Homo sapiens: one gene and its partners. The protein of the gene in region 2 interacts with the protein of the main gene of each other region in a pairwise test. Each region holds a gene or a part of one and is shown on either strand. Other genes may lie near its edges. The genes, in order: MYOM2, DYSF, MYBPC1 and PLP1.

The links.
Region 1: the proteins of DYSF (region 2) and MYOM2 interact in binary tests that used the Homo sapiens proteins (3 or more experiments, as listed by UniProt).
Region 3: the proteins of DYSF (region 2) and MYBPC1 interact in binary tests that used the Homo sapiens proteins (3 or more experiments, as listed by UniProt).
Region 4: the proteins of DYSF (region 2) and PLP1 interact in binary tests that used the Homo sapiens proteins (3 or more experiments, as listed by UniProt).

Annotation. Positions count from the first base shown.
Region 1 is NC_000008.11:2,039,957-2,048,608, forward strand, and holds the start of MYOM2 (myomesin-2), read left to right. Parts: upstream 1-5,089; 5' UTR 5,090-5,212; intron 5,213-8,652. UniProt on the Homo sapiens protein: Major component of the vertebrate myofibrillar M band. Binds myosin, titin, and light meromyosin. This binding is dose dependent.
Region 2 is NC_000002.12:71,511,699-71,519,390, reverse strand, and holds part of DYSF (dysferlin), read right to left. Parts: intron 7,585-7,692; coding exon 7,470-7,584; intron 6,152-7,469; coding exon 6,059-6,151; intron 5,676-6,058; coding exon 5,470-5,675; intron 3,769-5,469; coding exon 3,640-3,768; intron 3,212-3,639; coding exon 3,149-3,211; intron 2,403-3,148; coding exon 2,352-2,402; intron 1-2,351. UniProt on the Homo sapiens protein: Key calcium ion sensor involved in the Ca(2+)-triggered synaptic vesicle-plasma membrane fusion.
Region 3 is NC_000012.12:101,589,583-101,598,250, forward strand, and holds the start of MYBPC1 (myosin-binding protein C, slow-type), read left to right. Parts: upstream 1-5,388; 5' UTR 5,389-5,488; coding exon 5,489-5,513; intron 5,514-8,668. UniProt on the Homo sapiens protein: Thick filament-associated protein located in the crossbridge region of vertebrate striated muscle a bands. Slow skeletal protein that binds to both myosin and actin.
Region 4 is NC_000023.11:103,786,840-103,793,811, reverse strand, and holds the end of PLP1 (myelin proteolipid protein), read right to left. Parts: intron 6,015-6,972; coding exon 5,846-6,014; intron 5,376-5,845; coding exon 5,302-5,375; intron 4,480-5,301; coding exon 4,414-4,479; intron 3,286-4,413; coding exon 3,214-3,285; 3' UTR 1,193-3,213; downstream 1-1,192.

The DNA of each region.
Region 1 (8,652 bases), on a different chromosome or scaffold from region 2:
CTATCACCTATTGATCTATTTCCATCACTGATCTATGTCTATCTTTCATCTCTATCATCACTCTATCACTTTATCATATATTATCTATTTACCTATCATCTATCTTTCTATCACTCTATCATCTATCTATTATCTATCATGTAACTCATATACCATCAATCTCTTTATCAATCAATCTATCTAACCTATCATCATCATCATCTGTCTGTCTATTCATCTGCCCATCAGCTTATATGTCCATTCACCTATCTGTTTTTCTCTCTTTCTTTCATTACTCTTTTGCCATCTCTCACACTCTGTATTTTATCTGGATTGTTACTTGTTCTGGGTAAGAATGTTGTCCTACTAGAAGCAACTTTATCACACATAAAAGTGAAAGTCTACTTCAGACATCTCATGTCTTATATATTACCCACTACATAGAGTTATAGTATTAAGACTTGCTGGTACTCTGAGACATAGTAAATGCTTGATAAATATTAATTTAAATGTATTTAAAAGTATATATATTTTAAAGTGTCTATATCTATATCTATCTATATCAATATCTATCTATCTTTCTATCTATCTATCTATCTATCTACCATATATATTTTTGAGCTGAGGTAAAGAATTACTAAATATAGCCTAGCTTTGTCAATTCTGTATATTTCTGTTTAGTTCTGAGCCACTATTAACTATTATACTTAACAATAGTAAGTTCTTCATGTCTCTTGAATCCATTCATTGGGCAGTTAGTTCAGAACTCCTTTATTAAGCACAGAGAATGTGCTAAGTTTGGAGAGAAGAAGCCCACACTTTGGTGGCTGCTGTGGCAAGAGTGTCTGGGGAAGAGTAAGATGGTGTAGTTGGGGAAATCTTTACTCAGAAATTGATGTGTAGTTATAATAATATTGGCCTCAAAAGAGATAGCAGGTAAACTTACTAAGGACTATAAAATAAAGTCAAAATTTTGCAGAAAAGAAAAAAAAAGCAAAGGAAACCTAAGCATTTATTTTCCTACTTTCCTGGAAAATGATTCAGAAATGCTGGAAACATTGGGAATTTGTGCGATTCATGTCGCTAAAGGGTTCCTCATTACTGAGCTGCTGCTTTCTGTGGACACGTGTTTAACTGACTTAATGAAATGTTAGAAGGAAGGCGCTTCCTCTGAATGTCAGCGACCTATTTCATCAATTAGTGGATTAAGCATGGCCTCAAAGAGACATCTATTGAACTTCTTGGAAATTAAGAAGGTGACAATTGTATTTCTCTAAACAAGGTTACTCTCACAATCAACATTTTCAGAAGGTTCACATTTAAACATTACAGTTAATTCATCTAAGTGGATGTGATTTTCTTGAGGTTTAAATTCTAAATACAGAACTGCACAACCATAAATAGGAACAAAGACATTCTAAAGGCAGAAAAAAGGAACAAGGTTGGGTATGGTGGCTCACGCTTGTAATCCCAGCACTTTGGGAGACCGAGATGGGTGGGTCACTTGAGGACAGGAGTTCGAGACCAGCCTGTTCACCAATATGGTGAAACCTTGTCTCTACTAAAAATACCAAAAATATATATATATATATATATATATATATATATATATATATATATATATATATATATCCGGGCCTGGTGGCACACACTTGTAATACCAGCTACTTGGGAGGCTGAGGTGGGAGGCTCACTTGAACCCAAGAGTCGGAGGTTACCACTGCACTCCAGCCTGGGCGACAGAGCCAGACGCCATCTCAATCAATCAGTCATCAGTCAATAAAAATAAAGAAAAAAACTCTTTTCTTTAAAGTGGGGCTGTTTTCTGAGATTCAGGTTTTCAGGATTTGGGAATGAGAGGCAGTGCTGATGGGGGCTGATGCCCTCAAGGGAGTTTTCTGCCTCCAGATTTTCCAGTCTCCCTTCTGCGGCCTGTGCACACGTGCTCTGTGGGGACCAGACGCCTTTGTTGTTGGCCTCATCACCCCCTGGTTTGGGAGAGCACGGAGGGTGACCCCCTGCCCCTCCCTGTGCTGTGGCTGCAACTGCGAAGCCTCTTTCTGGTGAGCTGTCATCCTTTGAATCATAAAACTGAATATTTGGCCTGTTGGATGGATAATTTCTAAAATACATGGGATGGATAATTTCTAAAATACATGGATAATTTCTAAAATAATTTCTAAAAAACAGAAAATTTGTTTTCTGAGACGGAATGCATGGAAGTGAACAAAATATCTTAAGAATAATTTTATTTCTTTCAAATATCCAAACTGATTTTCCTGAATCGAATGTCAGTTTTGGCTCTGTGCAATATAACAGGGGTCCTGAACCCCAGCCTCGGGGTCCGTGGCCGGTGAGGAGCTGGGCCGCATGGCGCGGTGAATGGCGGCCACTGAGTATTCTCGCCGGAGCTCCAGCTCCTCTCAGAGCCGCGGCCTTAGATTCTCACAGGAATACAAACCCTACTGTGACCTGCACACGCGAGGGATCTAGGCTGGACGCTCCTTATGAGAATCTTATGCCTGATGATCCGAGGTGGAGCAGTTTCATCCCAAAACTATCCCCCTCTCCACCGTTCTTGGAAAAATTGTCTTCCACGAAACCGGTCCTTGTTGCCAAAACAGTTGGGGATTGTTGCTGTATAGAACATAACTTCACCCATGAATGGTCTGGCCTGGGGTTCCACAGGATTGAAGGCACGTGGTTTTAGAATGTCACTCTTTGCATTTCGATCTTCTTTTCTATGTTGTGGGAAATCCTCAGTGAGGCCAACTGTTTTCCATTCACAGGCTGCCAATTTGAGCTGTGGAAATGAGATTGCTGGACTCTTCCTTTGTCTTAGTCAGGATTCTCTTGATGGCCGATGATAGAAAGTCAGCCCAAGGAACTCCGGCAAGAAGGAGCCTGTCTGCCCCAGAGCTGGTGTGTCTGGTGGAGAATGCGGGGCCCATGCCTGGTCCCACCGCCTCCCTCCGTCTTTTGTCCCTTCTTGGCTCCAGGCTTCCTGCAGGTGCACCTCACCCAGGGAGTTTTGGAAGCTACATCCCGGGTGGGCAGGGGCAGGCATGGCTCAGGGAGATGGGGGTCTACGAGGAGGGTGGGGAGGGGTCTCCTGTCCCCAGCAGAAGGCGAAGCTCTGTCCCCATCAGGAGCCTATCTGTGTCCCGGGTCACACTCTGCTCTCTGGGTGGTGTGGCTGAAAGATCCAGGCTTTCTTAGACGCAGCACTGGATTTCTATATCACAGAAGGAGGGCACAGCCACCGTGAAATGTCAGAAAAGGAGGAGGAGTGTGCTGGCCCTTCCTTCTCTCAGGAGAGGCCCCTCCCCGGGATGAGATTGTCCCCTCCTGAGATGCTAGGACTGGGACCCAGGCGACTGAGATGCCAGGACTGGGACTCAGAGGACTGAGATGCCACCTGAGGGGACGAGGCACCATCACTGCCCCTCCAGTGTCGGCCACACTCAGAGGCAGGGGGGCAGAAGGGCTGAAGGGAAGTCCCCCAGGTCCCTGAGAAATGGATTCGCTAGAGAAGGAGATGCTGATAAACCGGAAGTAAACATTGCTTGCTCTGGTCTTGCTGTTTGCAACCCCCCCAAAATATGTGGGTTAAAACCCTAACCCCCAAAACGATGGTGTGAGGAGGTGGGGCCTTAGGGAAGTGACAAGGTCATGGAGGTGGAACCTCCCGAGTGGGATCAGTATCCTCATACAGAGGCCCCAAGAGCGGCCTGGCCCCTTGACTTGGTGAGGACTCAGGGACCGCGCCGTCCCAGAACCAGAAGGCTCTCCCCAGGCAGTGTCTGCTGGTACCTGGATCTTGGACTTCCAGTCCCCAGAACTGTGGGAAAGAAGCTCCTGTGTTTTATAAGCTACACGGTCTATGGTGTTTTGCTAAAGCAGCCTGAATAGACTAAGAAATCACTCAACAAACACTAATTAAATTAAATGCTAGGCCATCAGAATACGAAGGGGAAGAAGACAGAAACACTCGCCTCCTGATCCAGCATCCAGAACGCTCTGGGGCCCAGCAAGAGGCTGTGCTCGCGTCTTTCTCGTATCTGATCTTCGCCTCCATCCACCTGCTCGCTGGTCCTTGGCTGTGCCTCTGATACCCCAGTGTGAGAACGTGGAGTTTCTTAAGGCAATTCTCTTATCATATTTTCTCTACTTGTCACAACAAACTTACAGGAAAGTTGTTATTCCATGCGTTTTAGAGCTGGGGAGCATAGCCCCCGTGGGCTGAGCAGCTGGCCGAAGTCCTCAGCCCCTGTGGTGAGGTGCAGCTGGAGTGTGATTCTCCGGGTCCTCAGATGGGGGCATCCCCTTGAGGCCCCGCCTCTTGGCCAGGCTGCAGCCCAGGACCGTGCCAGGTGTGTGTTATCTATATTTGGACACACGCTGTGCGAAACGACGGGCACCCTGCAATTATCCGTGTGGTGTAGACGCAGTGTACGTCTGTGGTAATGGCTATAAATAAGCCCCGACTTGCCGACTAGGCACCGCTCCTCTTTTGGGTAGGCAGTTCTTGCTAAAATAGCCCTAAGATACAATCGAGTGAAGACCTGAGTCGTTCTTGAAATAAAAAAAAAAAAACGAACAAACACACGAACATGCACACACACGCTCACAAACCCAGGGGCTTGTGCACCTCCCTCCCTCCACAGCCGACCTCAACTCGGGTGTCCAGGCCTGCGAATGGCACAAATGCTCACTGAAATCCATGTCATTATTAAAGACTCATTCAGGAGTTGCAATTTGTGAGCCAGGGAACCTGTAGCTCGAAAGGATTGAAGATATGTCTGAGAATTCACACGTAAGGATTAGAACTCATGGAGGAGAGTTGCGGGGAGGGAGCGTGGGAAGTCAGTGCCCTGCCCTCTCTTTCTGGGTCGGGGGCTGAAGTGTCACACCCGGTTTCCTGGGAAAAGTGCAGTTTGGGACTCAGAAAGGACACGTTCCAGTTTTGAATCGTGATTTCCCCCGCCCTCAGTTTGAACAAGAAGCTTTTCCTCCTGAGGTCAGGCTGGTGATTTACGATGTGGGTATTGATGTGGGGAGAGGCAGGCCCAGGCGTCTATATATAGTAGCTCCTCAGACCTTAAACGGGAGGGAGGCACAGGCGCTTGCTTTGCAGGAGTCAGCTCTGCCTTCCTCGGCTGGAGTGTGGGTGGCTTGGTGAGCCGGTGGTCAGGAATTCTCTCTCCTCCTTGCAATTTTCCTTTCTGTCTGGGTAAGTGTCTTTCTCTTCTTGCCTTTTCTAATTTGTGGCTTTAAGGGGAGGACCGGTAACTTCTGCACTCACATTTTCTAAGTACCTCTACTTCAGGGTCAAGAAGAGAGAGCCAGTGCACCCCGTCGCAGGCACCCTTTACTGTGGAAAACAGAGCAATTAGTTCTGGGATCTGTATTTCTTTGACGAGGTTTTATGCTCAACTAACATTTTATTTCCCACAGCCGTGGTCTTTGCTAAGTGCCGTTTAGCACCCTGCGGCGTGTGCTTTGGGTTTTAGCCCTGGTCTCATCGTGGCCCCAGGGGGCCCCCCAGTCAGTGGACTGATGTCTGCAAGTTTCATGAGATTCTCAGAAACGAAAGCCTCCCCCGAGGAGAGGGCTGACTTATAAAGGTGTGAAATAATAAAACTGGATATTTTCTTAAGGGAAAAAAGAGTCGAGGGTCATTCAGCTTAGACCTAGCCTATATTATCCACGGTATGGGAAAGAGAACAATCCTTGTCAGGACTTGCAAGTTTTTGCCCAAAAATGACAGCGTTCTTACGGCTGTTTTCTTCTTTGTGCTGTTGGGTGTGTTGTGACCCTTCAGACTTCTTCAGCTCCACTCCGCTGATAGAGGCTGTGCCTTCTCAGGGCGTGCTCTTGAAATGCAACCTGCTGGAGAAAGACAGTGGGGCTGGGTGGTTGCACGTGGAAGGCACCGGAGGCAAACGGAAGGAAGGGGTTTGCCATCACTGGGAACACCTGGCCTTTTCTAATTCTCCATTTCACATTCCTTTCTTACTAAGTAGAAGTAAAACAGGACTCAAAGAAAGCGTGGAACAAAGATAATTTAAGGCGTTATTTAATAAACCAAGTCCCAAGCTAAAACTTGTCTTGGGAGCCAAGGGCTTAGCCACTTGTGGCACAGGCCAACGCTGCGTGTCTGGGAGTCCCTTTCCCCTCTAGAAAGCTTTAATTTGGTGTATTTATTGACTTTGACATTTTTAACTGTACAAACAATTTCCTTCATTAAGTGGAAGTCAATGTTTTGTACTTCAAACATTTTTGCAAATTAAAACCCATCCTGGTGACATGAGGAATGGGCTCCACACGTTGTTTGCAGGAAGGAATTAGGATGGGGATATCAGACACGTGGTCCCCTGCACTGGAGGAGAGGCTCGCGTTTCATCCTGGTGTCATGATTCCTAAACGTGTCAGGAGCATTCCGGGAGTGGCCGGGGAGCTGGGCTGTGGTGGAAAGTGGGCTGGACGCTGTCAGGAGAGTCAGCTGGCGCCTGGGTTCGGCCGTGGCCCTACCGGTGACCCGGGCAAGTCATATTTCCCTGGGGACGGTCTGTGCTAACAGTACAGCGTGGCGCCAGGATTATCTACACACAGGCTGTCCAAGCTGGGGGACTGTTAGCTGCCACCTCACTCAGCCCCCTGTTTTACAGCAGAGCAGGTGGAGGCCCCTGAGCTGAAGGTCAGCAGGTCCCCACTGGAGTCTCAGCCTCCCAATGCGCCTGAGCCCCAGGGACTCACATCAAAAACTACCCTGCGAGGAAAAGCTGCTTTCTTTCTCTCTCTCTTTCTTTTTTCTTTTTTTTTTTTTTGGTTGGTGTGTGTAGGGGGTATTTAACACATGTCTGAGATAGTTCCTTAAAAAGGAAAACAGCTTTCTATGTAGACAGTAGAGGGACATTGGGGAGCTGATCGGCCCAGGTCCTGTCATTTTCTTTATAGTGTCATAAATAGTACAGGTTGATCATTCCAAATCTGAAGATCAGAAATCCAGAATGCTCTAAATTCTGAAACTTTGTGAGCGCTGGTATGACTCTCAAAGGAAATGCTTACATGAGCATCTCAAGTATCCAATTTCTGGATTTGAGTTGCTCAACCAGTAAGTATAAATGCAAGTATTCCACAGTCTGAAAAACAAATCGGGAATTGGAAACTCTTCTGGTCCAAGCATTTTGGATAAGGGATGCTCCACCTGTAGGGTGCATTTGGCAAGTCCTCTCCAGGGTTCCCTCCACTCAGAAGGGCCCTGTGCTGCCAGGGCTGCAGGCACCCAGCACGTGCTGAGTCAGTGGGGATTTGCTTGCAAAGACGTCATCACACCCGGCCAGGAGGTGGTGGCCCAGGCTGGGTGAGGGACACTGGGGAAGTTCTAACATAGGAAGTCCCCCAAGGAGTGAAGAGATTGCGGAGGGGACACACATTCAGGGTGGGTGAGGCTGGACGTGCAGTCCTGCTGGTTTTCTGGGTTGGGCATGTGATTGATAAAAGTGGAGTTGAGGGCACATTGGCACTGGGAGTCAAATGCGCAGAAGACTTGAGCTTGCTACTCTCCCGAGCCAGGAGCTCTAAGGTGTTTTCATTGTTGAAATCCAAGGGTTCTGATTTAGGCTTGGCTGGCACGTTGCAAGTGACCCCATACTTGTGGAATCAACTGAGGCTGATGGATTCTGCAAAGCCTCTGACACCTCCTGATTTTGGTGGTCCTGAGCATGAAGTGAGCAGGGAATACATGTGGGGATAAACGTGGCAAAGTGCCCTGTTACCCCCATCCAAAGACTTCCCGGGGAGACTTCCACAGTAAGGTACCATTGGAGTGAGGATTGCAGGAAGTGTGCACACGTGATCCCAGCTCTGCCTTGCTAAGCACTACAAAGTGTAGCCCCTCACACATGAAGTGTTTGAAGACTTCCAGGCCCACAGGACCGGATGTCACGTCAGTGATACATAGGTTGCATTGGACAGGACGTTACAGACTGGTTGAAGGATAGCTAGTCTGTGAGCTCTCAAGACCTGAGCCGTTTCACATTCTTCCAGGTCTTAGGTCTAAGGAGGAGGATTTCCATCCAGGGCGATTCTCCTCTTATTTCAATGTAGCTCATTCTCTCCTTTGACCTAATAGGTCACATTTTGACTCTTCCCTTTACCAAGAAATACAAACACATCTGAGGTTTAACTCAACATAAGTGTAAGTAGATACTGTGATGACACATGAGCCCCTGCTGCAATAGCAGGTACTGGGGATTGCTCATGCGTCTGCTGGAGTGGAATTGCCTGGTATTCGTCAGGCTGATCCCAGAAGAACCTTGGATAGGAAACCGGATGGAAGCTGAAACGTCTTCCCCAACCTTGGTCCAACTTCATTTCAGTGAGCTCTTCCCAGCACCCTGCTGGTGAACTCCAGAGAGAGTAAATGGGTTTCTGAGCAGGAAGCGTTTCTTGAAGATCCACCTTGATTAACTCATTGGAAAATCCCAGTGAGCTGCATCTGGGGAGATTTCAAATAGTGAAGCAATACATAGATTTTCTCAGATACCTTTTCCTGTCTGCAGAATTCTTGAACCATGATAACAGCAGCAGCATAACAGAGACAGCAACCGATTTCGGTACCAGGGCCAGGGCCAGGCATGATGCAGATTCAATATGGAACGCCAGAGC
Region 2 (7,692 bases):
TCATAGATTACTTTTATAATTAGATACAAGTAAAATAATTTTTTGACTTAACCCTTGGGTTCTCAGAACAAGACTCAAAACATAATTAAGATTTAATTTGTTACAGAATGACTTGGGCTCAAGCTCATTCTTTTAAAAAATGCTTCTCCAGGTAAACAGACTTAGTTTTTTATCTTGTGACTTCTTCCCACAGGCAATGATTTGAGAAGACAGCGCAAAGACAAAGAAATCTCACCCACTGATCTAGCCATCAGGTCCAACCCAGTAATTTTTTTTTTTTTTTTTTTTTTTTTTTTTTGAGATGGAGTGTCGCTCTGTCATCCAGGCTGGAGTGCAATGGTGCGATCTTGGCTCACTGCAACCTCTGCCACCCAGGTTCAAGCGATTCTCCTGCCTCGGCCTCCTGAGTAGCTGGGATTACAGGCGCATACCACCATGCCCAGCTAATTTTTGTATTTTTAGTAGAGGCGGGGTTTTACCATGTTGGCCAGACTGGTCTTGAACTACTGACTTCAAGTGATCTGCCCACCTTGGCCTCCCAAAGCACTGGGATCACAGGCATGAGCCACTGCGCCTGGTCCCAGCAATTATTTATTGGGCAGAATAAATAATTCTAAGGTAACTTCTGACAACAGGCAGAACCAAGCCCCTTATTTTAAATTCATATTTAAAATACAAATTTAAAGAAGGAAGGCATGATATACTTGGATAGAGGGGAGAGGGGAAAATAAGCTTGTGCTCTTTCTTTCCTTTTGAGAAATCCTTGAAAATTTCAAAATGAGAAAATTAGTAACAATTACATCAAATTACATTAAAACACCATGCAGGCCAGGCACGGTGGCTCATGCCTGTAATCCCAACACTTTGGGAGGCCAAGGTAGCCAGATCACAAGGTCAGGAGTTCAAGACCAGACTGACCAAGATGGTGAAACCCCATCTGTACTAAAAATACCAAAAAAAAAAAAAAACTGCCAGGCGTGGTAGCACACGCCTCTAATCCCAGCTACTGGGGAGGCTGAGGCAGGAGAATCACTTGAATCTGGGAAGCAGAGGTTGCAGTGAGCTGAGATCACACCACTGCACTCCAGCCTGGGCGACAGAGCAAGACTCCATCTCAAAAAAAAAAAAAAAAAAATCATACAGGTCTCCTTTAGTCTGTGCAATTACTAGTTACCTTTACTTTACGTAATCTGTTAAATCCATTGGCTCTCGGTTCTCAGAAGAGGACTATTCACTTCTGGACTGTCTGGGACAAGTGAGGAGGCTGGGGCAGGGTTCCCCTCTCTCCACTGCCTCTCCCTCCCCCAGGGATCCATATCTGAACCCCACTCCCATCCCAGGGTGAGAGTGATGTCAGGGCAGAGAGCGCTGGGTCTCACTGGCCCAAGATGGCCAGGATGAGGAGGAGGGCTGCCCAAACTCAGATCTCACACGGCCTTCCCAGAGGTGGGGGAAAATCCAAATTACAAATAAGGGTCTTGATTCTGCTTGTTGGAAATAAGGGAAGAAGTACTTCCCTCCCCTCTCTTTTTGTCAGAACACTTACCTTAGAAAACTTGTAAATATATTACACTTTCCCTGTCTCTTTGAAATGCATCTTTTTAAGAAACTAAATAAGCCTTTTGTCAGCTTTAGTATACAAATATCATTCTCAGGACGTCTGAAATATAAACACCAAGGGAGACGGCTCCCCTGTGTCCCAGCTTCTGTCGGAAGATAGGAGCCTAACTCCCGTGCGCACCTTGCTCCAAGTTGTAAAACTACTTCCTGTCATAAAAATATGAGTTTGATTTTTGTTTGGTCTTCTGGACACAACAAATTAGCTAACATAGATGGTCACCCCGATTACCAGGTGACTTTGGGATGAACTCGGTGTGACCAAAGGTGCTATACATCTTTTTAAGAAACTAAATAAGCCATTTGTCAGCTTTAGTATACAAATGTCATTCTCAGGAGGTCTGAAATGTAAAGTCCCCTGACCTGAGGGTGGGGCATAGCTTCTCTTGAGAACGTATGTGGTGGGCAATGGGTTGGACCCGCTGGCTAAATTAGCGTGAGATTTCTTTCTGTCTTTGCAGCATCTTAGTGGATCATTGCCTGTGATGTACATCTCACTCTGGTTTAAGGCCTCTTCAGTGACAAAAAGTGCTTTCTTTCTCTTCTACCTTTGTGGAGAGGTTTTCTGGGGTGAAAGGAGATGCTGTGCAGAGGGCTTGGCGTTGTTCTTTGAAATTATATTTTCCCAAAGCAGAGAAACACAGGATCTCTGGAGCCCCTGCCCATGGTCCACAGAGGCTCCACCAACACGGAGAAGTGAGAACTGACTGCTTTCATAGAAAATAAGCAATTACCCGGAACTCCCCGAGGAGAGCATCTGTCCTGAGAGAACGAGAGTCTACCACCTGCAGAGAAAGATCATGGAAACTCACATTCACAGGGAACATGTGGCCCACACGGCCAACCCAATAGCTCTTCCCTCCCAAACAATAACTGCCAACACTTCACACTTACTCAATTCCAGAGACTGTTCTAAGCAGTGTTTAGCCCTCACAGGAACCCCATCAGCAGATACTGTCATTATCCCCATTTCACAGGTGAAATAGGGGCACAGAGACTTGTACAGAAAACACAATCCCTACACGGCATAGACAGAGCTGGAATCCACTCTAGTGCCGGAGCCTACACTTAGAGCCACTAGGCTGCAGTGCGCTTCAGAGGAGATGGGGGAAGAGCCAAGGCCCAGAGAGAAAGAGAATCTCAGTCAGAAGCAGGCACGTGGATTAACAAAATAAGATGGAACCTTAAATGTTCATTGCCACAAGTGATTTAAGGACCCTGACCTGAGGCCCCAGGGGGATGCTGAGCAGTGGGCTCTCCCGCAGCTGCTGCCTGCCAGCTGAGCTGTTGCAGGCATTTCTGTGACCCGTAGAGCCTGACTGTGAGTTACTCCACATCATCCATATGTCAGGCTTTAACACGTCTCCCTCTCACGCACATACTCACATACACACCGACAGGCACACACACGCATTCACGCATTCACACTGACGTGCACATGCACACACGTGCACAAACACACACGCGTGTGCACTGACACCTATGTGCATACATACAGCCCACGGAGAACACTTTGACTGCTGAGACATACCGTGATAAAGATGGGCTCATCAAACAGCTCCCCAGGAGAGTCAAACAAGTTGAAGAAAAGAGTCTGTTGGTTCAGAGCAAAGAGAGACATATCAGTGCCTGCTGATCCCTCAGGCCAGGGAGAGGGAGGACCACCACCCCCAAGCCTCCACGCCTAGCAGTTTAGTCCCCTCAGAAAATGTGGATTGGGCACAGTTCTGGGGATTGGACAAGTTCTGGGGTGATCTGCCCCTGGCCTCACAGACGTGGTCATTTCAGGGTTGGGTGGGTGGCTGGCCCTATAGGGTGACAGGGATGTGGAGCAGCAGGAGAAGTAAGAGCAGGAGCCCTTTCTCCAGTCCCACAGATAACCTCCTTGGGAGCCAGCACATCTCACCACCCAAGGTCAGCGCCATACGTAAACACTCTTGAATGAATTGCCAGGTGTCTGCACTGGGCTTCCAGATTGGAAGGCCCACCAAGGTTCTGGCCCTCATGCCCCATGTCTCCCACCTCATTGAAGAGTGGGCTGTTTCCCTTGTGGATCCGCGTCCGCTTGGTCTGCCCTGCAGCGGTAACCTTGACCACAGGCTTGATGTTCACCCCCGGCAGCTGGCGCCCCTCGATCACCTGGACCCTGATCTGAAAGCCAGAAGGAGGAAAGAGCAGGAGGAAGGGGGAAGAGTTAAGGACCACCCACCATCCACCCCAAGAGTCAGAAATCTCAGGGACCATCTCACCACTGGCTTCTTGGGGAAAGTATTAAAAAGGAATTAGGAAGAGCATTATACGAACTATCATATTTTCCCACCAAGGCCCCTTACATCTATAAAATTCCACAGCTCCATAGAAGAGCTGCCAGGCTGCCCCTCGTCGGCTACCCACATTAAACCCCAGGGGTGGGCAGATACAGCCCCCATTTATGTCATTCAGCCATTGGCACAAGCCCCACCCGAGACCCCATTGATACTGGCATTTTTAAGTGGCTTGAATATTCTTTATTGACAATTCCCTCAGAGGTCGAACTTACACAGTGAAGTGACCCCAGAAATAGTCTTTATTCTTTATAAGATGCAATGCTTTCTTACATTCTGAGAAATAAATTAAGAATTTTTGCCATTGAGCTGTAAGTAAATGAAGACTTCAAGAACGTCTATGCTTCCAAATATTAGGTAAGATATTTTAAAATATGAAATTTTACAATATTAAGGCAATTCTATGGAAAAAAATAAGATATTTACTGGCTCCACTTTAGAATCAACTGTTATTTACTGACCAACTGTTTTTTTTTTTGTAAATTGCATAATATGGGAGGATATATTCTTAATAGCAATGGGAAGATGGATGAGTGATTTTTAATCTCCTCATTTTAATATATTTTCCAAAGTGTCTAAAATAAACATATGGTATTTCCATAAAGAGAACAAAGGCAATATGAACATGTTTGGGGAATAGTAGTATGGGGGCTAGAATTTTGTCTTTTGGGGCAAACAGTGGTTAGAGCTAGGACTTCTGCTTAAATTACCATGATTTAGAATAGAAATATATTTTTGCAATTTGTTGCACTTAGTATTATAAATAGAGATTTAAGATTCTTGCTTTTAACCTTAAAAGTAGTTGTAAAGAGTTAAATATCACTGTGTGACTACATCAAAATAGAAAATTCTTTTGAAAAGAAAAAAAAAATAGGCAAAGGACCAAAGTTAAAAGCAAATAAAATGGGATGGATTTTTGGATAAAAATGTGTCAAAGTGTTCATATTAATAGCTTTTATTCTGTGATGAGCTTGAACAAATTCAAATTCCACATGACTCTCAGAAAAATCCATGGCTATATGCAGGGGGATAGATATAAGGAGAAAAAAAAGATGTTAGACAGAGCTTCTTTGAGGTAAGGATCTTGTTAAAATGCAGATTCTGGTAGAGCAGGTCTGAGTAGACTCTGCATGTCTAACAAGTATACAGGTGATGCGGAAGGTGCTGGACACAGACCACACCTGAATAGCCAGGAGCTTGCTGGTTGGATATACCCTGGTTAGAAAAATCAGGTTTTTCTCTGATCAGAGATGCAAAGACATGCTGAATCTCTGCAGTGACTTTTTTTTTTTTTTTTTTTTTAAGCGCAAAACCACAGGTCTCGGCAGAAGCTTATTCTGTGGATGTAAGATGTGAACTCCCTGTTTGGCATCTGCCCAGGCCCAGGGAAACTACAGATTCCCCCACAGGAGGGCCCTGAGGATCCCACACACATCTTCCCCTGAAGCTGGACAAACCAGGCAGGTGCCTGGCACCCGCAGCTGATGGCTGAAGAGGAGCCTGGGGTCAGAGAAAGCCCGTTCATCACCTGGAAATCCTGCGGTTTGTCTGACAGCAGCTTTCTAGATGTAGGCGCACTTCGCTTTCTTTTGATCCCGGGGTAGTGGGGCGGAGGACGTGAAGGTAGTTTCCTTGGGGTGGTGGGAGCCCCCGGGCCTCCGCTTTGATCCAGGAATGGCTCCGCCTCATCTCCAGTGAGTCCCTGGTCCTCTGTGTCTTCCTCTCCTCCTGTGTCTAAGAGGAGAGGGCCCTAATGAGGCCTGGATCCCTCTGGCCCTGCCCCTGCCCCTGCCCCTGGGACCCAGCCCAGGGGGCAGAAGATCCAAAAGGCATGGGCCCTAAGACTCATCCCCTCTTCCTCTCCCTCCTCCCTCCCCATCAGTGAGCCAGGATGGATAAGGTAGAAAGAAGAGGAGCTTCCAGCAGCTGAAACTTGAGGGCAGTCAGTCCAGTTAGTCAACAGGAAGAAAACAGAATGGCCCTAGCCCTCCCACCCGCCAAGTCCTGCAGGAGGAGTCCTCTGCCACCTGGCCCCGCTCCAGCAAGCTGACCATGGCAGCTAGTGAGACAGTTACAGGGAGGGTCTGGGATCAGGACAGTCCTGGCCCGTGTCTCACCCGTGGGGGCCGGCCACTTCTTTCCAGAGTATCTCGTGTCCATGGTGCTGTCACTGAGCAGGGACCAAGTCTCGGCCCGGCTCTGTCCCCCGCCTGTCTTGTGGGCAGGGCATAACCCCGGGAGGGGAGGGAGGAGGTTGGGGTGAAGGAAACCAACCTACTGCACCTCCATCCCCAACCCTGCCTTCCCCGCCCACCCCAGCCTGGTGCAAAGCTCAGAAATAGCTGTGGAGCCCAGTGGCACCTGTTCCTTCTCACCACCTCCCAGGCGTGTCTGGAAGCCTCCACTGATTGGCCTGCACCTAACTCTGTCAGATCCACCTCAACACAGTCCCAGAGTATTCGGACCCTCCCTGCTCCCCACCCTCTGCCACCACGGGCACCTCTCCTTCCTCCCCTGAGCCCACTCCAGCCACACAGCTCAGGATTACCAGGTTACTCCAGTCCAGACTGATCTCCCATCTCTAAGCTCGGACAGTGCTGAGCCCCAACAAGACAGCTCTGCTCTGCCGACCTCACCACAGAGCCCTGTGCTGGGCTGGCCCCAGGTCAGGCACAGGGCACACTCAATTGAGACATGGGCTGCTCCGGTTTTAATGCTGTGCTTGCTTCTAGCTCCCTTCACTAAGAGAAAAACTCTAGAATCTTTCCCATGGGCAAGTGCCCACTAGCCCGTCTATGTAGCTTCCTCCCAACCCCAGCAGGCTGGACCACATGGAGGCTCCCACACCCAGGCCCACCAGTGGAGAGCCAGCCACCCCGGGCTGGGTCCTCGCTTGACCAGCCTGGCAGAACCAAGTGAAGAGAGCTGAGACAGGCACAGCACTTAGCTAACTTAGTCTGCTCCCTTCACAAATAATCTATGGGCCCAGAGAGGGAAAGTAATCAGCCCAAAGTCACACAGAGACTCAGTGTCAAAGGCAGGACTGGAACCCTGAAGTTCAGTTCAGGGCTCTTTCAAGAAAAAAAACTAGTTCTTTTGTCACACACCATCACCAAAGGCCTGCTGGGTGCTGAGGTAGGGAAACATTCGGTTCTGGGGAGTTTGTGGGGCCTCAGGTATCACCTGGGTCAGACCCCATCCCCACACACCCTTCTTGGAACTGCACAGCTCAGAACACCCAGCCTGGGCTCAGCCCCGTCCCCAGGCAGCTGGGGCTTGGAGGCACCCTCACATTACTCCCTGCACCGCCCAAGGGAACGTGCCTGCTGCCCCTTCTTTCTGCACAGCAGAAGGCAGCCCTCAGGACTTCCCACCCACTGCACCCTCTTCTTTCCAGGCCTGGGCAGCCTCCAACCTGGGGAGGGCAGCAAAGGCTGGGAAGCCTCGCTGCAGCTCCCAGCCCCCAGGCTCAAGTGCCACTGCCGGCCTTCTTGCTGGGGCCCAGCCAGGCCAACGTGGGCTACCCACCTGCCACTACATCCAGGTCAGGCAGAGTCGGGGAGGGCTCCAGAGGAGTAGGGGGCGGGAACAGGGGCACAGCTCCAGGCAGCGGTGTGTAGGACACCTGCAGGACCAGCGAGGCCTGGAAGAGATGAGACGTGGGGGACAGGTTGGTGCGCTGGCCTCGGACCACTGCCCTCCAGTATCTTCCCTGTTTCTGGCATCCCTCCACCAAGGAATATGGCTCTGA
Region 3 (8,668 bases), on a different chromosome or scaffold from region 2:
AAACTCAATAGAAAACTAATTTAAAAAAGAAAACAACGACAAGAAAATCTTAATTTCTTTTTTTAAATTTTTTTTTCAGGGCAGTTCCCTTAACCAGCATATGTTCGGAGTGACTCCCAAAAATCTTAATTCCTTAGCAATTAAGAAATGATCTTTTATTTTTTTAATTTTAATTTTTTTTTTTGAGACAGGGTCTCACTCTATCACCCAGCCTGGAATGCAATGGTGCCATCAAGGCTCACTGCAGCCTCCACCTCCCAGGCTTAAGCAATCCTCCCACCTCAGCCTCCTAAGTAACTGGGATCACAGGTGCTCACCACCATGCTCAGCTAATTTTTTTATTTTTTGCGGAGATGGGATTTCACTATATTGCCCAGGCTAGTCTTGAACTCCTGTTCTCAAGTGATCCACTTGTCTCTGTGTCCAAAAATGGGAATTGCAGGTGTGAGCCACTGCACCCAGCCAAAAAATGCCCTTTTAAATAACTCCTAGATCAATAAGAAAATGACAACCAAATTGCAGATTATTCAGAAATTATAAATATGATAACATTAAATCAAAATCTATGTGGTATAGCTAAAGCCCTAGGCTGAAAATAAGGTCTAATCTAAATCCTTAATATAGAAAAAAAAAAAACTTGACCAAAAGAAATCAGGAAGAGAAAACATAATTAAACCATAAACTAGTTCTTTCAAAGCACCAATAAAATTAGTTATACCTTGGAAAAACTTACCAACGGAAAGGGAGAAAATACAAATATTTATTAGGAATAAAAAGGAACCATAATCTTATATATGGATACTTTTAAATTAGTAGGATTGATTTTAAAAGTGAGAATCGATCCTACTAATTGGCTGGTGCATATACATAGTTTAAATTTTAATCAATTTTTGCTAGACCACTTTCCCAAAAGGTTACCTAGCCAACAGTTTGATCAGCAATGTATAAGATTGCCGGGTTTCTCATACCCTGAATGTTATCATTAAAAAAACAAAAAGTTGCCAACTTAATGGGTGAGAACTGATTACTCATTGTTTGTTTCCATTTTCCTGAAAGTTTAAGCAATATATCGTATGTATTCATGGTTTCTATTTCTTCTGTAAATTGCTTTTTGAAATCTTCTACTCTACTTTTAAATTAATAATATTAACTCTATGATGGGTTTAAAATAACTTTTTCTCCTTTCCTTTTTTACTTTTTGATTTTATGGTGTCTTTGCTAGAGATAAAGAATTTTAATATTTTATTTACTCAAATCTGTTACCTTCTCTATAGCTTCTAGATTTTCTTACTTTAACACGTGTCTCCACTTATGAGAGTATTATTCAAACACTGTCATAATTGTTCTTCAAATATTTTTATTGTTTAATTTTTTAACTTAAAACTTTATTTCTTCTATAATTTGCTCTTCTTTATTGTGTGAATTAGAGGTTTAAAGTTGTTTATTCCCCACCCATCCACACCCGCCATGTGCCTCCAACTTACCAGAGAGACATACCACCACCAGTTTCTGTTATTTTACCATGATGCTGATTGCAGTATTAGTTATGGTGGTCAAACACTGAAAACAACCTGAATGCCCATCAAAAGGTATGTGATTGAGAAAATATGGCATACTACAGCACATCCATACCATGAACAATTATTTAGCTATTAAAAAAGATTGAGTTAGGTCTATGTATATTAACATGAATGAATGTCTGTGAGAGGAGGTTACATGGAAAAAGAAAGTGGAAAATAATGTAAATAGTATAATCCCATTCATTAAAAAATAGATGAAGAACTCTCTACATATGAATATATACATTTATACACGTATGTATGAGCACAAAGGAAAATTAGACCCTAATTCACACACTGGAATGAGGATGAGGTTGGGGAGAGAGTGAAATTCTTGAGATTGCTTATTTACTATTTATACTTCTCCATATTCTTTGGTTAACGCGGAGAACACTATTGCTTTTATTTTGAAAGGTGAGAGATTGATACTTGCCTATCTGACATCCATTCTCCTTGGTCTCTTTAATAACAGAATTCCAATTTTACCTGAGAATAAGACTACATTTCCCAGCTCCTTTTGTAGTCAGATATAGCCATGTAACCAAGTTCTGGCCTGTGGGATGTAGTAGATGTGTGTGGGACTTCAAACAAGTCTCTTTAAAATGAAGAAAGTGACTTCTTCCTCTTCCTCTTCTCCTTCTCCTTCTCCTTCTCCTTCTCCTTCTCCTTCTCCTTCTCCTTCTCCTTCTCCTTCTCCTTCTCCTTCTTCTTCTTCTTCTTCTTCTTCTTCTTCTTCTTCTTCTTCTTCTTCTTCTTCTTTTCAGCTGCCTGGAATAGGAATGTAGTGTCTAGAAGATACACAGCTATTTTGGACCATGAGGTTACCAGGAGGATGGTAGAGCAAGAAGGAGGAGTCTGGTTTCCTGGATACACTGTGAAGCCACTGTATGACTCTAAGCCATTTGCTTTTAGACTTGCTTTATATGAGGGAGAAATACTTCTATCTTGATTCAACTGTTGGTATTTTGTAGTTTTGTGTTGTATTTGAACAAACTTCATCCTCAATAATACAAAAGGAAAAATCTAATACAGCATTTAGCAAAAGAAACAAAAGCCTGTTGACCATCCCCCTGTCTTTCCTGAGAGTACAGCTAAGGCATCTGCAACCTTCTAGATGAATGCATAAGATCTGAAATAGGAGTTATGTATTCCTAAAACAATATAGCCCTAGGAAAATTACACAAGTCTACTTGTTATCCTAATTTAAAATTTTACCTTAACCACCTGATACACTGTACAATAATTTGTCCTAGAATTTGTCCATACTTCCAATTCCTATAATAATGCTTTGCCTTTTTATAATTAATTCCTTTATTACCAAAAAGTTCCCCAGGTCATAAAATACTTTCTCTGTGGATTGCAATATTTCCTGGCATATGTTCACTTCAGTAAGACGATCAGTGTATTAAAAACCCAATGGGGTTTCTGCAGAAGCCAATGATGGCATGGCACCTCTTTTGTGGCATGTGTGAAATCTGCCCTTCGCTGTAAACATTCTTATGCAACATGACACTCTGCCCTATGTCCATTTCATATGTGGTGTTCAGTGTGCTGGGAATGCTGAAAAAAACAATTCTCTCTTAGAGATTTCCCAAGTAGAATCACAGTGTTAAACCTATCAGCAGCCTCCAAGATCATTTTTTTTAAGCCCCTCATTTTACACAAAAAGAAACTGAGGCCCAGAAAGCCCCCTGACTTTCTCAGAGTAACTAAGCTGGTTAATGATAGATCCAGAAATAGAACCCAAGGGACCAACTTCAGATTCTAGGTTCTTTCATATGTTTCATCTATTAATTGATATCCCCAGAGCGGACTCAGCAAAGGAACGTTTTTTTTTTTTAAAGTACAAAAATGTGTTCAGTAGTATAATGTGGTTAAGGAGGGGCTGTCTTTATAAAAGATGTTCATTACCATCTTGACTGGCTTCCTCCCCCTCCCCGCCACATAACTAAAGCATGATGCTATTGAGTTCTAAGTCTAGTTTCCACCCTTATATGAAAAGTCAGCTTGGCACAGAGTTTGGTAGAGCTAAGTCTGACCAGCTGCACTCTCAGCCACAAGGGAAATTAGACGAGACAGTGTGGCTGCTTCAGTACCAATCAATCAAAGTTTTTGAAAATTATCTTGAAAACACACACCAATAAAGGCATGTGTGTAGTTGTCTTTTCATATAAACTCAGGTTAGTCCTAGTGCATGTGAACAAAGAAAGTAAGGTGTCTTCTTCAGGTTGACTACTTGGTAGTTCCTATTTCTCTATCAGTTCCATGAGCGTTTTGGGAGAAAGTGACCACATCTACTACAGTCTTTCAACATCTTAAGTTAGATTTGTGTACCCTCCAATTGAATCACTTGAATCAAAACAATAGCTACTAGTCTATTTGACTTTCTTTGCCCAGGCCCCATATATATCTTTTTATTTTATTTTTATTTTTTGTAGAGACAGGGTCTTGGTTTGTTACCCAGGCTGGTCTCCAACTCCTGGCTTCAAGTGATCTTCCCACCTTGGCCTCCCAAAATGCTGGGATTATAGGCCCCAGCACTGCACCCAGCCTCCATATATATTTTTAAGTGTATAATCCAGTGGTTTTTAATATATTCACAAAGTTGTACAACCATCACCACTATCTAATGCCAGAACATTTTCATCATGACCAAAAGAAACCCCATATGCACTGGCAGTCACTCCCAATTCCACCTCCCTTAGGCCACTGGCAAACACTGATATACTTTCTCACCATATGGATTTGCCTGTCCTAGATATTTCATATAAGTGGAATTGTACAATGTGTGTTCTATTATTTTTTATTATTATTATTATTAATTTGAGATGGAGTTTCGCTCTTGTTGCATAGGCTGGAGTGCAATGGTACAATCTCGGCTCACCACAACCTCCGCCTCCTGGGTTCAAGTGATTCTCCTGTCTCAGCCTCCCGAGTAGCTGGGATTACAGGCATGCACCACCATGCCCAGCTAATTTTGTATTTTTAGTAGAGACGGGGTTTCTTTATGTTGTTCAGGCTGGTCTCGAACTCCTGACCTCAGGAGATCCACCCCCCTCAGCCTCCCAAAGTGCTGGGATTGCAGGCATGAGCCCAGCAGTGATCTATTATTTTATAGTCTACGTTTGTATGTCTGACTGACTTCTTTCACTTAGTGTAATGTTCTCAAGCTTCATCCACGTTGTAGCATGTGTCATTGCCTCATTCTTTTATATGTCCTATAATTTTGAAAAATGATGTTTTTGGAAAAAAATGCAAACGCAGAGTATCCCCTAATAGAAATCTTTGCTATTCTTAGAGAAGAACATGAGACAAGTTATTTAACCTAGAGATTTGGCTTGAAAAATTAATATTGACATATCAATGAGGAATAAGAAAAAATATAAATGCAATAATTAAGGACTGATGAAAATGAAAAGCTAATTGGAGCATAAAAGTGATCATCTGAATACAAAGACTTTTCTGCCTAATCTTAGTGAAAATTAAGGTATAGGTTGGATTGGCATATTATGATTTTTAATTTGTTTTTTTAATCATCCAGCAAACTTTTTGCACTCCTGAGTCAGCACATGCATCTGTCAGAGAGAGAAGAGCAAGACGGAGCACGAGGCTGCAGCTGAATTTAGAAAGTTAGAGGTGTTCTCATCAGCCACATGAGATGGGCAGGAGATTCCTTCCAGTAGGCGAGAGAGCAGAGTGCAGACAACAGATGTGAGAAAGGTCCCCATAGCTGTCAAGTTCCTGCATCCTTGTGCTGAAGAAAGGGAGGTGCCATCATGATTGATGTTCAGAGGCAGTATAAAAGCACTGGGTTTCTCCCCAACTGCTTGTCACACCGACCTGCACCATCTCTCGCCTGCCTGTGGGGTTTCTGTCAACTAGTCGTGGAGGGAAGGAGACTCTTTAAAGAATAACATCTTATTGTGGCCATGCCAGAACCCACTAAGAAAGAGGGTAAGACTTATCTAGAAATCTTTTTGTTGTACTCCTGAATAAAGTGTTTATTTTGGTATTTATCTTCAAACAAATAACAAATATCTTAACTAGATGAGAAAATAAAATCACTATGATTTAAGGAAACGATCTTTTAGATTAAACAGACCAGAGGAAAAATACAGCGAGAGTATATTGAATTGAAAAATTTCTGATAACGATAGTTTCTAAAGGGATATTGACTAAAATTATCAAATGATAATTCTATCATTCAATTGTAAAGAATCCTTAAAGTGTAATTTAAGGATGTTAATTGCTGATGGTAAACAGATTACGTTTTCAAGCATATTTTCTTAGATTTAATCACAAATTTTTTACCATGTATTTGCAATTTGCAGAGAGTAGGAGACTTAAAATATTTTCTCAAATGGTTAATACATTGGATCAAGATTTCAAAAAAGAATTTGTGACATTATTTCCATATTTGCTACTTTTTTTAATGGAAACATATTTAAAATATACAGACGAAGGGTTTTTTTTGTTCTTATCAGTGCCTTTGGAGGTTCGTTATTAAATTCTTGCATGGAAAGAAAACCAAACACCTGATAAAAAAGGATGTCCCTGAATATCATGAATAGATTGTTCTTTCATGAGTTTTATTGTAGAGAATTTCATAATATGTAGTAGGCTTTAAGAATAGTTAAGCTGAAAGTATAAAAATATTCTTCCTTAGAAGAAATGTTTTCCCTAACAAAGTTTCTCCTTTCTATAAAAAAATTAGTGTATTAAAGCTACCAATTGGTAACAGAAGTAAATTGGAATTAGTAGTTATGAAAATAAATAATAATAAGCACAAATTAATACTATGCATGCATTGAATTTAATTTTTAATTAAAATATCTTTTAAAAATATTATTTCATTTATATTCATCTTCATTAATGCTTACTGAATCTTTATTTTTCCCTTCTGCAAATAAAAGAAAAAGAAAGATTAGCAGGAAACATAAAAATAGTCATAGTTTTCAGTTTTTAATTCTTAAAAATGCTTTAGCTATTATTTTAAGGAACCTTGAAAAAGATGTTGAAATACTAACCAAATTATCAAAAGTCTTTTAAACATATTTTCTTTATATAATTAAGTAACCAGTGTTGACAGGCTGTGGTGATCAGTTTACAGGTTGGCCTTACTTAGTGGCAGAGGGCATTGATGGATGAAGTCTTTCACCCAAAATAACCACACCAAATGCATGTATTAATATGGGAACTTAATCCTGACTGTCAGGCAGGGAGTCCAACCCCTGCTAAAGTATCTTATTTGTAATGCAAATGATTTACGTGTGTACTAAGTGTCCTTTTTATCTGCTCTGTCACTTTAACCTCTCCGAAGTGTACCCAGAAGCAATACATTCTACCATGTTTCCAAACTGGAAACACAATATTGTTTTAATTATTCTGAATTTAGTGAATGATTTTGCATTTGTTTTTTTAAAGCCTAATTGAAAATGAGAAGAAAGCTGAAAAACCAATAAATAAGGTGACAGCCTGTAAGAGCCAATAAAGCTAATTAAATTATTCTGATCGCAAAGGCGATGAAGTTTACTTTTCATTTGACAACTCAGTCTGATTCACTCTTTTATGGGGAATGAAATTATAGAGCTGCAAAGAGGAAAATATATCTTTAACTTCAGCCCCCACCCCCCCAATATATATTTTTTTCTTTCTGAATAAAACAGCATGGATGCTAAAGACTCCATCATCTTCTTTTGCTATAAAAGCATGTTGCTATTCTGTGTAGGAGTTCCTCCACCCAGGACAGTAATTTTATACCCATAAATTCTTTGGTTAGTGTAAATTTGGATGATGGGGATTGGGGCAAGAAGAGTTACTGATATATTTAAAATCCATTGAGGAAGTACAGAGATTTTTTTGGTTCCCTTACCAGCAGAACTGATTCTTAAAGGAACTGTACCTTGAAAAGCTTTCCTTAGTGAAATAATTGCATTTTAATATTGTTTACATTAGAAGAGTAAGGAGTACGGCAATTCATGAACTATTCTGGTCCTTTCTTCTTCTCCTAACTGTGATTTCATTTTCACTGGGGTTAGTTTGATTGCATATAAGCCTCCCTCTGAAAAATAAAACATGGCCTAGAGCCAGTTCTTCAGAATCATTTCAAAATACCTGCAGAAACCCTCCCAAAGAACAGGCTCCTCCAGCCCATATGGGTCTTCTGAACTCTTCCCCACAGCTCGTAAAGCCATGCCCAGGAAGGCCATGACCACTTGCTGTGAATCTTAATAGGACACATGAGCTGGTTTGGCCCTCCTAGGATCCAGGAGGATCTGGCAACTCCTCAAAAGAGGCTGAGTTTTCAGCACCTGAAGGTACAAAAAATGTCTCACTCAACTACTTCCCAGCCTACCGTGGCCTAATTCTGGGAGTTTTCTTCTTAGATCTTGGGAGAGCTGGTTCTTCTAAGGAGAAGGAGGAAGGACAGATGTAACTTTGGATCTCGAAGAGGAAGTCTAATGGAAGTAATTAGTCAACGGTCCTTGTTTAGACTCTTGGAATATGCTGGGTGGCTCAGTGAGCCCTTTTGGAGAAAGCAAGTATTATTCTTAAGGAGTAACCACTTCCCATTGTTCTACTTTCTACCATCATCAATTGTATATTATGTATTCTTTGGAGAACTATGTTATTTGTACTGTCTATTCCAGATAAAACTTACCTTACACCACTTTGGATTCTTACAGAACCTAAGGCCTAGTACAATTAAGTTATTCCGATCAAATTGGGAGGATGTTGTAGGCAGTTTCAGATTTGTGGGGATCTCCCAGGATGCCTTTGATACATTCATTTATATATCAATTATTAATTGAGTACAAGTAAGTGCCCGAAAGTTAATTGCCCCCGGTTCCTACTGTGTAAAGAAATCACCTTTCTTTTTTTTTTTTTTTTTTTTTAAGACAGTATCTCACTCTGTGGCCCAGGCTGGAGTGCAGTGCCACAGTCTCCGCTCACTGCAGCCTTTGCCTCCCAGGTTCAAGTGATTCTTGTGCCTCAGTATCTCAAGTAGCTGGGATTACAGGTGCCCACCAACACGCCCAGCTAATTTTTGTATTTTTAGTAGAGACGAGGTTTCGCCATGTTGGCCAGGCTGGTCTCGAACCGCTGAC
Region 4 (6,972 bases), on a different chromosome or scaffold from region 2:
GTTAGAAAAAAGGAGGTTTATGGTGTGTGGGAGAGCTAAGAACAATGGGTTCAATTGATAGACTGGAGATGCTCTCAGCTTCTGAGAGCCTAGAAACTCCATCTATAGATTCATCCCAGAGGCAGAGCCAAATAAGGGCAGATGGAAAACATAGCTTTCTTGGGAACTGGCTTTCGGTTCCTCTGAGGCAAAAATACAATCACTCTGTAGAACCCTGAATCAATTCTCCAAAATATGGTGCTGTGTCCTTGTTTGCAGTGTCTTAAAATAAGTCCCTGTCATATTTTTATTCTTTATGTCTTAAAGTCGTTCAACCAGACTCGCTTGCAGAATATTAATTGTGGTTAAGCAGAAATCAGGAAATTAAATTGAAACTGCTTTTGAATGGAGCTCCTTAACTGATGACTGACTTGTCATCCCTCCAGCTAAAGATTCCTTTCTCTCCAGTCATTTGCCAGCTGCAACTATGGGGCAATGAAATGATTTTAAGACAGCTTTCTTTAAGCTGGTCATCAGAGTGCTGTCCAAGGGTGCCAAATTCTAACCTAGGGTTGTGAAAGGGCTTTAATGCTATGTCCCCGGTGGGCTAGTAGGCTGGCCATCCAGGGTGGTAGGTGTCACTAATTTATTTTAGTACTGCCCTGCCACAGCCTGTTTACATTTACGTTGCCCTTTCCATACCTGCTCTGTCCTTTAAGTACTAAACCTTCCATCCAGTACTATCCAAATAAAACTAAATATTAGTCACGTATGAATTACTAAGGGATCATTACTGGAATATCCAAACAATTTAAAGAGAAGGTAACAATAACTTAAATCTAAATGCACCGGGGACTGGGGCACCACTAAGGTATTGAAAAAGTAACCATAGTTGACTCTGAACATTCTGAAACCCAACTTCGAAGAGAAAAGAAACCTTTAAGTAGGCAATAAATTGGTTTCAATATCTGCGTTTTAACACAAGCTCAGACATGTACTTACTGGATTTCTTTGGGCAAATTACTTTGCTTCTATTTCTTAGTGTCTTCAACTATAAAAGTAGAAGTAATCTATTCATATACTATTTATTTCAGAGAAATGTTATGAGAATGACTTGGATGAGCTGAAAAATGAATGATCTCCTTGAACAAGGTACGATTATTAAGTTTCTATTGTGAAGTCAAATAGAACAATTCACTCAAAGGACACGATGTTTGATTGAGAACATTCTTAATTTTATTTTCTTTAATTTTATAAAATACACTTTGTAAGATAAGTTTCTAAAAGTTTATCCTTTATGTGTGTTAAAATTGCAATTCTATATCAGAAATGAAGGAAACACTTTCAGTTGATTAACTCTCTTTGTGTGTGTATATATGTGTATGTATGCATGTGAGGTTTTCAGGGAAGGGTTGGTTATTTGTTATGTTATTAAATCAAAACAAAACACAAGGTACGGATTACTTCACTGTCCTTTATCTTGATTGGTTTCTTACAAAACATTTTCCCTCTCCTCCTTCTATGCAGCCTGGAAGCTTATCTTGTATACTGGTTTGAAAACAAGTATCAAGTGTCTTTTTGTAAAGCTCTTACATCTCCTTAAATATTGCTGAAACCACTTTGGGGGAAAAGAACAACACAACTCTTTACAACAAAAGAACTGTAGTACAAATCTTTCCTTCAATTAAAACCAATCAGACTTTTTTTTTTTTTAACCCAAAGTTAACAAAAACAGGAAAAGACTGAAATCTGGGAGCTATTCAGGTCTCAAACTCTTTCTGCCTGTCCTTTTTCCTGGAAGCTTACCAACTGAATAGCTGATGACTGGTGCATTCTGTTATGTGATCTATATCAGGAGAAAATAACCTTTATGTTAAACCTAACTCTTAACACACCAAGATAACATTGCTAAGTAAAATCATTTTCCATTAGCTAGAAAGAACGATCAGATTACTCAAATTGAGATTCAAATTCACCAAATCTGTTTCTGCAAAGGCAGAATACTTGTAGAAAATCCCAATAGATTCAACTAGCCAATTTTTAATATCATTTGTGATGCTTAATGTCCAATTTTCCTAGTTTAAAAAACAGTCATAATCAAAGAATTATTCTCCAGACATTTCTGATGCAACCCCAAATAAGTAATAAACAAACTGGAATACATGAAATGTGCATCATTCTAAAACAAATCAAGACCTTCAAATCACCTACGATGACTGAATGGATAATACCCCATGAAATGAGCACCATTGTGAAGATATGACAGAGGCCAGAGTACACAACTAATTAACAGAAAAAAAGACATGCTATCCAAAGAGTTATCTATCCTGTGTCTACCAGAGGGCCATCTCAGGTTACACCATTAGCCACCAGCAACTGCTGCTCCTCAGGCCAGTCTGTTCTCATGTAAGCTAGTTTCCTTCTATTCTCAGCTCCTTGGAAACCACAGGGTTGTCATGGTAGCTGTTATCAAGGAGAAGGGAGTGAGAAGATGCTGACAACACCCTGTTTCTCTTCCCTAACGAGGTGTAAGGCCAGATGCCCCCTTCGTCTACACAGATTCTACGCTCCCTTATGCTGTAAGTAAGGTTGGCTGAGTTAGGGCTTCAGTAGTCCATCGCCATCGGGGTCAGTGCTCTCTTTCTGTGGGTGAAAGATCCTTGCTTTGACCCCCTTCTCCCAGCTGCAATAGGCAGATTTGGGCAAACGCTCTTATTGTTTTTCTGACATTCTTTTTTCTTCTATCTTCAGTGGTAATAGAGAGACCAGAATGAATTCCATTTTGTACACCAAAGAGAATATATTTGGCCCCTATAGATGGCAAGAGGACCAAAGACATTCCTTCTCTGTACCTGAGCATCTTTCCTTCCACTTTGTTTCCATCAGTGGAAGTACCCTTTGAGAAGAAATTACTTTCTGATCCTCAGGAGATGCTTGAAAATTCAATTAGAGCCTCCATTCCTTTGTGACTTGCAGTTGGGAAGTCATCTTCTTAGGCATTTCCCATTTCTAGCAGGAACCAGCTATGAAGCAAAATGACTAAAAGAGGTACATAAGAGGGGAGAGTCCAAAGAGAGACCTTAATCACTGCAAGACTCTCCTTTCTTGTTACACTCATCAAGTAAGAAGAGGGCCAGTTGGTGGCAAAGGCAAAGAGTTAAGATGGGAGACGCAGCATTGTAGGCTGTGTGGTTAGAGCCTCGCTATTAGAGAAAGGGGGATTTCTACGGGGGATCAGAACTTGGTGCCTCGGCCCATGAGTTTAAGGACGGCAAAGTTGTAAGTGGCAGCAATCATGAAGGTGAGCTGTAGGGAACAGAAGAGAGAATGTGAATGAGAGTAGAAAAGAAAGCACTCCCTCCTCAAATCCCTTTGGGAATGAGGAAGGGTAGAAATAAAATCATAACTAAATAAGGGAAAAACCCATGCTCTGCAAAAAGCAGTACATCCCAGGCTTGGCTTTCTCCATATACACTTGACTGGAAGTCCGATGTCTCTGAGGCATCATGGGTCTCATGGCCCAGGCCCAGAGAATCAAATCATAAAGATTTATTCCACACCTCTGTTTGATCTAGCACTGAGTTTTCCTCAGGGAAGTGAACAATATTTGGGCTTTGCCACATCAATATGTCCGAGTGACTTAGAGTCATAGGGTGCTTGCTGTAGACACACAGCCACATCATGCAGTAGAGCTCTCCCCTGGTTAATGAATCAATTCGTTTTACAAGGTGAGAAATTACTTGACTCTGTATGGAAACCTCAGCAGTAGGGGCCAGGAGTTCTGTGAGCTCATCTTGTCTGATCACTGCTTATAAAATAACTTCAGATAAATCACTTCACCCTTCAGTGCCTTAGGTTTTTAATCTGCACAATGAGCACACTACATTCACAGGGCACTGTAGCACTATCAGCAAGACCTGGGACATAGCATTGTATTATAATCATAACAATTCTAATAATGTTAGGAGGTCCTCCCAGTATTTCCATATGAGTAACTAAATCCACTGGAGAGTATCCAAAGTGGATTCATATTGATAGTATATAGAATTCCAGGCTATAGCAAGTCATGTTTCGTGATGTTTCAGTGTTTTGTCACTGATCTGATCAAAATGTATTGAGAATTAACCGTAATTTATGACTGCAAAGTACTTGGCAACATTACATGTTCTATAAATACTAAATATTATCATTCGTGTCTATGAATCTCTTACCTCTTTCCTCATACCACTTTTCTTGTTCCCATCTAATTTGTGATGTCTTTCTGCCTTGCCAATGCAAGTAGAAGTACGGAGCCTCCACCCTTTGCTATCTTCCCAGAAGCTTCCCTCCAGCATTTCAAGGATGGAAGCAGTCTACCTTCTTGCCTTTCAGAATAGCTGTACCCACACTATCTCAGGCCTATTTACTTGCCAAGATCATTCAAAGTCAACTCACCAGGGAAACCAGTGTAGCTGCAGCCCCCACAAATGCAGCAATAAACAGGTGGAAGGTCATTTGGAACTGCAGGAAAATGAAAGAGGAAGAACTGTTTCTTGCAACAGCAGTAATATGCTCCACTGTAAATCATGAATACAGCTTTCTGAATGTGTTGATATCTTTCTTGTGTGCTAATTCCACATCTCTAACTAAGTTTTCACTTCCCTAAATGTGGGCCTCCCAGTCTTCAGTGTACACCATAGCACCTGGCCCATTAACACCCAGATCACAGAATAGTCATGAAATAGTACAGTACTCCAAAATAATTAACTGGTTCCCTACAGTTGTGCCCAGGGGCCCAAAATTTAAAGTCAACATTTTGCTGTCAAAGAAATAATTTACTGCCTGTCTCCCCCGGATTTACTTTTATTCCCCTGCCTCATTTGTATATAATATCTGTTCTCAATACAGTGCTTTCCCTTTCAAATGTACTTATTTTACCTCTCATTTGAGATAAAGAAGTTCCAAATTGAAAATGTTTTCATAAAACCTATGAATGCCTCTGTGCACAGCCCATTTTCTTGATATGGTTTTTAACTAAAGGAATGAAAATTTTCATGTGGGGGATTTTGCCATTAGGCTCTATCTTTACCTAAAGCTACAAACTTCTCTTTTAAGAGGGGAAGGGTTGGAAAGGAAGTCTTTCTATGCAACTCTAGAGAAAACAGGTGTTTTACCTTCTATGCTCATTGGCTCAGGCACACTTAGCCAACATGTTGTAGAAGGCAATCGGCTAATTCAAAATCCAGCAAAGGGAAACTTTCAGTCCTTAAAATTGAAGGCCATGGGTGTAATTTGTATGGTATTAGCTACTCCCTTGTAAAATAACCCAAATAACCCACTCACCTCAGCTGTTTTGCAGATGGACAGAAGGTTGGAGCCACAAACCTTGCCAGGGAAAGCATTCCATGGGAGAACACCTAAGTAAGACACAAAAAGCAAGCAGGGTAAGCTTTATGGAGTTACGGGGCCACATGGAGACTTTCCCCCAGAGCCCTTCTTCCATCTCTAATTATCCTGGCTGTAAAGTTGGATTCTACCAACAATCAGGATCCTCTTTTCTACAGGTTTACAAAAAAGAGAAGGTGGTATTGAACAGTGGTGAAACCTTGTGTTTGTTATTGAAATGTGCTGCTTTGGGGTTGTGAACAGCAGTCAACTAGAGTAGGCCAATGTGAATGGCCAAGAAAACTCCCACCACTTCCAAGTTCCCTTCCCGGGGAAGAAACCTCTCTGGTTTCAGTAGGGAAGGATTAATAAACTAAGACCCAATCATTCATCATCTTATATTTTTCTCATAATCACCACCCTCCTTACACTAAGAAAATAACCAAATATATAGTGCTTCCATAGTGGGTAGGAGAGCCAAAGCACCCGTACCCTAACTCACCATACATTCTGGCATCAGCACAGAGACTGCCTATACTGGCAGAGGTCTTGCTGGGGAAGGCAATAGACTGGCAGGTGGTCCAGGTGTTGAAGTAAATGTACACAGGCACAGCAGAGCAGGCAAACACCAGGAGCCACACAACGGTCAGGGCATAGGTGATGCCCACAAACTAAAATGATTGACATGGGGTGGTTAGAAATCAGCATCAGCCTGCAGATGTAGAAACACAAACTGGGAGATCCTGGAGTGGCGTGTGCCAGACATTAAAACCAGGTTCCAGGGCTCTCCTTCAAATGAAATTAGTGAGCAGGGCACCTCTGCCAAGGGTAATTGGCAGTATCTACTAGATAACTGGCCCCAGTATAACGGAGGGTGGGGGGAATGGGTAGGGGAAGAGTGAGGAGGATCCCTGGGTTAGAGAGGCTTCAGAGGATGTTTTTGGGCAGATAAGGTGTAAAGAAATCAAAACAGATCTTGAAAGAAAGTCGTGCCATTTTGTGCCTTAGGCTGAGCTTAGAACATGTTCCTTGCCATAGGAACATTTTTGTTCCCTAGCCATTGAACAAAGCCAATAGGAGATTAAAATTTCAGATACAAAACCTTTCTAAGCTAACTGCTGGCCACAAAAAGACATTGCTGGAACCCACACATGTTCAGCCGCCAAAGGATCTTTAACTCCAGAGACTGAAAACAAATGTGCACCTCACTCAAAGCATGGATAACCCTCAGGCAATAAAACATTCAACATGCAGATCTACTCCAATTCCCTCTGGGACCTCGAACTGTGCAGGATCCCAGAACATTGTAAATTTCACCTTGGAGTTAATTATTTAATTTTTATTATCCATCCTCCCTCTCAGATCAGGTGCCCAAGTCTCAATCACATGAGCAGCATTTTAGACTCTTGTCCAGTTAGATCCACTCTTGTGGTACCTACTAGGAAGGGAACAAAGGGATACCAACAGATGGCTTAGAAATGGTCTGATTGTACAAAGCATCCCACAAAACTCATGCTTTCTGTTTTGAGAAGAAATTTGCTTAGGGAACCTTTGAAAGGTGAGGCTAAGCCAGCTGGGCACCACGTTCTTCCTGACCTTCTCGTTCGGCTGCAGCCATCGCTTCCTCAC